2 linked regions of the Homo sapiens genome follow. The protein of the gene in region 1 purifies or fractionates together with the protein of each later gene. This does not show direct contact. Each region holds a gene or a part of one and is shown on either strand. Other genes may lie near its edges.

Region 1 (3,825 bases):
TGAGCTGAGATCATGCCACTGCACTCCAGCCTGGGCAGCAGCGTGAAACTGTCTCAAAAAAAAAAAAGATTTAGAATTTGCAAGTTTGTTTATTAGATGGTACATGTAAATTTCCTATGACACCTACCTACTGTTTCCTTTTTAGCATCTCAGTTTTGGGACACTTGTGAAATCAGTCTTCCAAGTATATTTCTGGTCATGGGTAAATTGTGAAGGCATTGGAAATTATCTGCACCTTTTCCCATCTCTGTTGTGAATCAATTTCCCACACACCTGGGACTTGTTGCCTACAACCAAACCTTGTGTGTCACTAAGGTGAAAACTTAGAATTTAAGCATGAACATTACAAAGACTTAAGGTATGTGATAAAAAACCTCTTTCCTTACAGGTATTCAGATTTTATTTGTGAGCCCTCTAAACATCAATGTCTTAAAGGGTTGACATTATAACAATGGAATAACTGAAAAGCGAAGTTTTCTGAAGTCATATGACCCTGCTGTGTGCCCAAGTCACCTATTCACATGGCTGTTCACATCATCTGCATGAAAATATTTTCACTTTCTGTTAACCATAGTGATTTACAATTCTATGACTATTAAAGTTTATTAAACACAAGTTTAGAAAGTATCTTTAACAAAGGTGTGTTTATTTCCATATATTGCTCATTACATTTTTCTTGCCACAGTTTTATCTAAAGCCAGGTCAAAATCTTTCTCTAAGGTATTTATTAATAGTGTATGTTCTTCAGATATAAAATCCCTCTGGTCAACATGCAACATTTGAATATCTATTGGCACTGTACCTCTATGAGATATTTATGACATTTGTTAATAGTGAACCTCAACCTCCTGACCCCACATCCGAAGTTGGGGGCGATGTGGGGGAACATACACAAAATTACAACCACATTACTGGTCAAGCACTTTATAGCTAAAATCTATTGACTTTAAAATAGCATTGTATGTGAATTCAGAGTTTTAATGTATTTTGTGGATCAAAAGGAAAGGGTCAAAGGCTAAGCTGAACACGGAGGGCACTAAATTAGCTAATAAGGCAGCTAGTGCCCCTGTTCTTGCCCCAGCCCTGTCATATCACTACATCCGATTCTCTCAAATGTTATAAAGAATAATGAACTTAAAACTTCAGGGGTTCCTGAAAACTGGTATTAAATTAAAAGCAGAGTAGTCAAAATTCTTTGCAAATGACTTCTGTGATAGAAAAAAATATTTCCAACCTGCGTCAGAGGAGAATTATCTTTTAGGTGCCAAGGAAAGAGTGATAAAGATGCTGAGTATATTAGTCAAGGTCATCTGAGAAGACTATTTTGTGGTTGATTCTTCTGAGCCCCTGAATTGTCCAACATTATTGGTGTACCTGTAGCGTGAACAACATTGCAACCAATAATTTTTTGAATACAGCAATGTAAAACCCTCAACTTTAATGTTCCTCAGATCGTAACAAATCAGCTCAGCTACAAGTCTTCCCCAAAGTGGAGCTATTCTAGTCATATATTTACTTAGTTTCAAAGAGCAGGAATCCTGCAAAGGTGGAGAAGCGTTGGTGGTCCCCATGGAGAGCGCCATTGCCCATTCGCAGCCAAACCTCATCCCCTTTGGCTAGCTTCAGCACAGCATGATTGCTGGATGTATCTGATTTGCCCTTCATTTCATAGCTGGAAAGAAAAAGAGGAACAAACTACTTAGTTTTTGCCATGAACAACCAGCTCTTCACCAAAGTCTGTGCTCCCCTTCTCTCCTTCCCACAGGTATAATCCTGCGGCTAAGTTCTCTAAACAGCCTGTGAGCAGAAATGACCTATGTACCACTTCTAAAGCTGGCTAGTAACACTCTCACAAAACCCCTCCCTGCTCCTTCTTATGACTGTCTGGAATGTTCATGACAATGACCAGAATGATCTTAGAAGCCATATGTTGAATACTGGGTTCTTGGAGACCATGTGGAAAAGAGCTCTCTCTCTTCTCTGCTCCAACCTGGAACAACCTTGGGCTGTTTGATGAGAAGGAAAGAAAGTTATATTATGTTTGAGCTATTCCACTGGGTTTTTGTTACAGTAATTTAGCTTCCCCTAACCAAGCTAGAATTTGGTACAAAAGGAGGCTGCTCCGCAACCCAAATAAAAATAGGCTTGCACTGGCTCATGGTCAGGCAAGGAGCAATGGGGAAACAAATATCATGGTCTGGGAAAGCAGAAGATCCATGTTACACTGTGCAAAAACATTTGGAAAATGTGATAACTTGGAAGACAGATCTAATGCCTGTAGGGTAAGAAAGGGAAGTGACTGGAAAAAGCCAAAGTACTCTTTGCTGCTTTTAGAAAGATGTTGCTACCAAAGATGAGTTAGGCAAAAACTGACTTGTTTGAAGAAAAGGAAGTAAATAATGTCTACGTGATTAGGGCCTAACAAGGTTAAAAAAGCCAGGTGTCTTTATATCTGGAAGAGCAGTGATAAAGTTGATGTTTTTTCCTTAAGACTACTCATTCAGCAGCCATAAAAAAGAATGAGTTCATGCCCTTTGCAGGGACATGCATGAAGCTGTAAGTCATCATTCTCAGCAAACTAACAAACACAGGAACAGAAAACCAAACACCGCATATTCTCACTCATAAGTGGGAGTTGAACAATGAGAACACATGGACACATGGAGGGGAACATCACACACCAGGACCTGTGGCAGGGTGAGGGGAAAGGGGAGGGAGAGCATTAGGACAAATAACTAACACATGCAGGGTTTGAAACCTAGATGATGAGTTGATAGGTGCAGCAAACCACCATGGCACATGTATACCTGTGTAACAAACCTGCACATTCTGCACATGTATCCTGGAACTTAAAGTAAAATCATAATAAAAAAAGACTACTCATTCAATCAAGTAGACACAGCTGTGGCACAATCTGATGGATTAAAAATATTGCCTTTCTGCCCAAATCGATTGCTTTAGAAGGCCTCAGGGTAACTCCATTAACTTGAGAGAAAGGCATGAAGACAAGGAATAGCAGGCTGAAAACTGTCAAGAAAAGTATATGGAGTGTGGTTTAGTAACACATGTAACTGACTTCACTTAATCTATTTAACAAATGAAGTAAAAGCCAGCTAAGTAAATAGAGTAAAATCGAGTAAAAAACAGAGTAAAAGCCTGCCAAGTAAGTTTCTGAGGAAATGGGTTTGCCAGAGACACAAAACCAGACTCCAGAGGCTTGGGCTGTTTGACTCAGCTTTCAAATTTGCACCAGCAGGAAGTGGGCTGTGAGAGAGCCTCGAGGAGGCCCTGCTCACCTTTCAGATGTGCCACAGAGAAAAGCAGATAAAGAAGACCCTCCTAGAGGACAGAACCAGGAGCCAAAGAGAAAAACAGCCAACAAACCAATCTGATAAAAAGGACTACTCATTGACTGACTCAGGGCTTTGAGCTGGATGCATTATTTGTGCTTCACAGGCTGTCTCCCATAGGGACAGGGAGATGGGGAGACATGTATTGTAAGTGTAGGAAGAAGAATTCAGCAGATATTTGGAAGCCAGTGGGCAGAGAAGGTTAGCTGTTCACCAGAATCCCCTTTCTTCTGTTCCATTGGCACTGCAATTCCATGTCACCTTTGCATTTGTTGGGTGGAAAACAATGTGACTAAGTTCTCTGAACAGAATTCCTGATCCATAAATATTTCCACAAGCTTGCAACAGCAAGCTTTTCTCCTTCTGACTCTGGCAATGACAATGACCAGAGAGAATTTCAAAGTCAGTTTTTTTGTTTGTTTGTTTGTTTGTTTTTTGTTTTGTTTTGTTTTTGAGATGGAGTCTCGCTCTGTCG
Region 2 (3,825 bases), on another chromosome or scaffold:
ATGCATTTCTGCATTTTAGCCGAAGTGAGCCACTGAACAAAACTCTTAGAGCACTATTTGAACGCATCTTTGTAAATGTACACTCCTGTCACAAACATAGAAATGGGATTTAATTAACATTTTCTATTTTAATTAAAAAGAGCTTTTGAGACTGGTGAATTTTACTTAACTATCCTTTTCCCCAAAATGTATTTAAAAAGTTTAACTTGGCCGGGTGTGGTGGCTCATACCTGTAATCCCAGCATTTTGGGAGGCCGAGGGGGGCAGATTACTTGAGGCCAGGGGTTAGAGACAAGCCTGGCCAACATGGCGAAACCCATCTCTACTAAAAATACAAAAAATTTGCTGGGTGTGGTGGCGCACGCCTGTAATCCCAGTTACTCGGGAGGCTGAGACGTGAGAATCGCTTGAACCCAAGAGGTGGAGGTTGCAGTAAGCCGAAATTGTGCCACTGCACTTTAGCCTGGGCAAAAAAGTGAGACTCTGTCTCAAAAAAATTAAAATAAACAAAAATAAAGCTTAACTTTTATAGAGGGAGGGAGATTTTCTGCAAGCTAGGTAAGAGATTTTGATATAGGAACTCTAAGAAAATCAAATTGCAGCTTTCTCAGAACTTTTCGCCCCATTGAGGGTATCTTTCAGTTTTATCAAAAAAGGCTAGCCTTCAGTACTTTTGATAAAATCAATTTATATATTTCCTCTTTTTTTTGCATTCAAAAAATATTTACTGAGCCCCAACTATGTGCTAAATGGTACAGATAGAGCAGTTAACAAACCAGAATCCCTACCTTCATGGAACTTACATTCTAGACTAGTTCTGTCCATTCGTATTGACTCTTGACGTGTTTCTTTTCGAGCAACAGCAAACAGTATGAGGGAGTAAAGGATAGGCAGGGTTTTTAGTCTTTATCTATATGATGCAATGATAAGGCCCAGGTTTCTTGTTTGCTTATTTTCTCATTGGTCTATGCAAATTTGTCTGTCTATTGGCTCATGGACCTATTATCCTTTACTCATAGAAGGTTACCATACCCATCCTGACCATTGCTAAAAGGAACTTGAAAACATATTAATAATTCAGAACCCACAAGGATAGCTTTTAGAAAGAACTCAGTAACTTTTGATGAACAACTATAAATAAACAACCAGTCTATCAATGTCAGATGTTTAAATAACTAGGGAACATTTTAACAAAATGTTTTCTAGAAACACACATGAACACAGAAAAGGTCATAGTCATCATAACTATGGAAGCTACATGGAAATTCTATCACAAAACAAGACAGTCTCAAACTCTTAATAGAGCAGAAAGAGCTGAGATAAGGAACAGGGATTATACACAGAGTGCATCTTAAAATCTTGGAGTTTTATGAAACAAATTTCTTGTAATTGCTTGATGGTAGCAGTAAAATCATGAAGTAATATGTTGTGAATATGGAACCATGTACAGAGTTCATCAACAGAGAAAAGAGGCTTATAAATAGCATCAACTTCTTCAACTCTCTTCCATCCCAGTGGACTTGCCAATTACTTTTGAAGCAAACACTAATCAAAGTGACTGAAACATTAGTCAAAATACATGACCGGACAGGCTATTTTGAGTAATTCTCTGCCACTCAGCCTTAATGTTGCAGAATAACTTAAAATAATCACTGTAGTACCTCACATCTAACCCATTTCACTTCTCTTAGGCTTAGCAGTTTTAAGCTGGGCATGCTTCCTAAATAAAGACAAACACCAATGGACTTCTGCTTCCAGATCAATGTGGTAATTTCTTGGAAATTTTTTCCCACCTTTATGTCTGAAGCCAGGACAGAATTTCTTAGACTAAATTTAAATTTACTTTAGGATAAGATTGGAAAGTTGCTTACTGTCCAACACAGACACATATGCTCTCTTTTGTTTGCATTTTTAAAAAGTATGTTATTTTAGATACTATGGTTAAAATGATAAGCATTTGTCTTAGAAATATCTCTATGAAATTCTGAAATGTTATAAACTTTTTCATTAGTTTTAAATTAAAAGTCACATGCTACCTACTTCTCTTTTTTAAGTCTTTTAGTTAAAAAAAAATAAAATGTCACCTAAAAATTAACACTAAAATATGAAAACCCTTAAATCTTGCTTCAATTTTAAAATAATTCAAACTTACCGCAATTTTCCCAAGATCTATGCCATAATTCAATGAACTCCATGAACACTGCTTGTAGTTGGGTGTCCAGGACTCCTCAAAGCTTTCCCTCAGACATTCCCCCTTTTCTCCTTTGAATCCATCCCGACCTGGGATCCCAGGTGTACCCGGAATGCCATTGGCCCCAGGGCTCCCGTCTCGACCAGGCACTCCTGCTGGCCCTTGTAAGCACATTCCATTATACTATAATGAGAAAGAAAAGGCAAAGAAAACTCTCACCACTTAAGAGTCAAAGACTCAGTATGATTAGAAATGCATTTATTTTGAGCCCTTGGAGTCAAGAATCCCTTCATACCACATGCCCGTGTTCTAGATGAGTTATTACAGAGAATTCATTTTCAAATTATTTCTAAAATATTGTGATTTCCTTCATATTTTTTAGTGCACAGACTTTACACGCACACACACACACATCAGAGGAGGACAAAATTATTTGCCTGCTCCCTTCTGCTCATTATAGGCATACACAATTTTAAATAGCTGTATTCCAAGGTGGGAATAATTTGATATTCTGCTTTTTTCTTCTAACTCTGTATCTTGCAAAGGGACCTGGATTTTTACAGTTTTATGCAAACATTGCACTATTTTTGGATAGTTTATTTCTACTTTTTTTATTATGAATATTATTGTAATGAAAATATCCATACAGCCTTTTTCTTCTTTTGAATTATTTCCTTAAGATAAATTCCTAGGGACATAATTATAAAATAAAATCTTAAGAGTCAATAATTATCTTGTACTGGCAATAGCTCCAACTTGGGTATGAAAATCCCTGCTTCTCCCTGTTTTTAAGTGGGGGAAGCAGTGCTTGGATAACATTTCTGGCCTCTCATCCCACCCCTCTTCCCCAAGGAGAAGCAGTAAGTGACCCAGTTTCAAGTGACCATTAGTTCTCAATAGGGGACCATCCACAATCTGTCAAACTGTCTGTAAGGACTATGATTTTCTGTTTGTTTGGAGAAGGACATCTTGTAGCATTTAAATGCATGGATTCTAGAGCCAGTTTCTTTGGATTTTGTCCCGGCTCCACCTTACATTAGCTCTGTGAGATAGGGCAAATTACTCAACATTTTGGTGCCTGTTTCCTTATCTGTAAAATGTGGATAATAATAAAGAGTCTTACTTTATAGGGTTTGTATGAGATTTAAGTGAATAATATATAAAATGTGCTTAGAACAATGCCTGGAACACAGTAAACACTGTATGTGTCAGCCATTATTATTCCTATGTTCCCCAGGACCAGTGCAAGGCAGCAACTCTGGGTAAGTGTGTCCACTGCCCTGGGTGGACCTTTCAGGATTTAGACCTGGGGAAGAGAGCATTAGCAAACCCACCAGCCTAGCACACATAAGCCATACATGCCAATGCTGTATGATCAGTGGTAAAGGTGATATCCTGTGCCCCACCTGTCTAATTCCTGTGTCTACACCTGAATTGGTTCAGCTAGGAACAAAGGTGCCGTTTATTAGACACTCCAAAACCCAATGCAATCCATTTAAATGTTTACTCTAACATTTCCTCTATTTGTGTAAGTTGCCTAGTATTATTCTGTATAACTATATTTCCCAATGAAAACAAAAAACAAAGTTTCTTAGATATTAAAGTAACTTCAAAGCTTATCTTTTGACTACAGT

The links.
Region 2: the proteins of C1QTNF3 (region 1) and CTHRC1 purify together in Homo sapiens (affinity purification with mass spectrometry; one large-scale study listed by BioGRID and IntAct). This does not show direct contact.

Annotation. Positions count from the first base shown.
Region 1 is NC_000005.10:34,019,071-34,022,895, forward strand, and holds part of C1QTNF3 (complement C1q tumor necrosis factor-related protein 3 isoform b precursor), read right to left. Parts: intron 1,673-3,825; coding exon 1,513-1,672; 3' UTR 1-1,512.
Region 2 is NC_000008.11:103,374,287-103,378,111, reverse strand, and holds part of CTHRC1 (collagen triple helix repeat-containing protein 1 isoform 1 precursor), read right to left. Parts: intron 2,375-3,825; coding exon 2,153-2,374; intron 86-2,152; coding exon 1-85. UniProt on the Homo sapiens protein: May act as a negative regulator of collagen matrix deposition.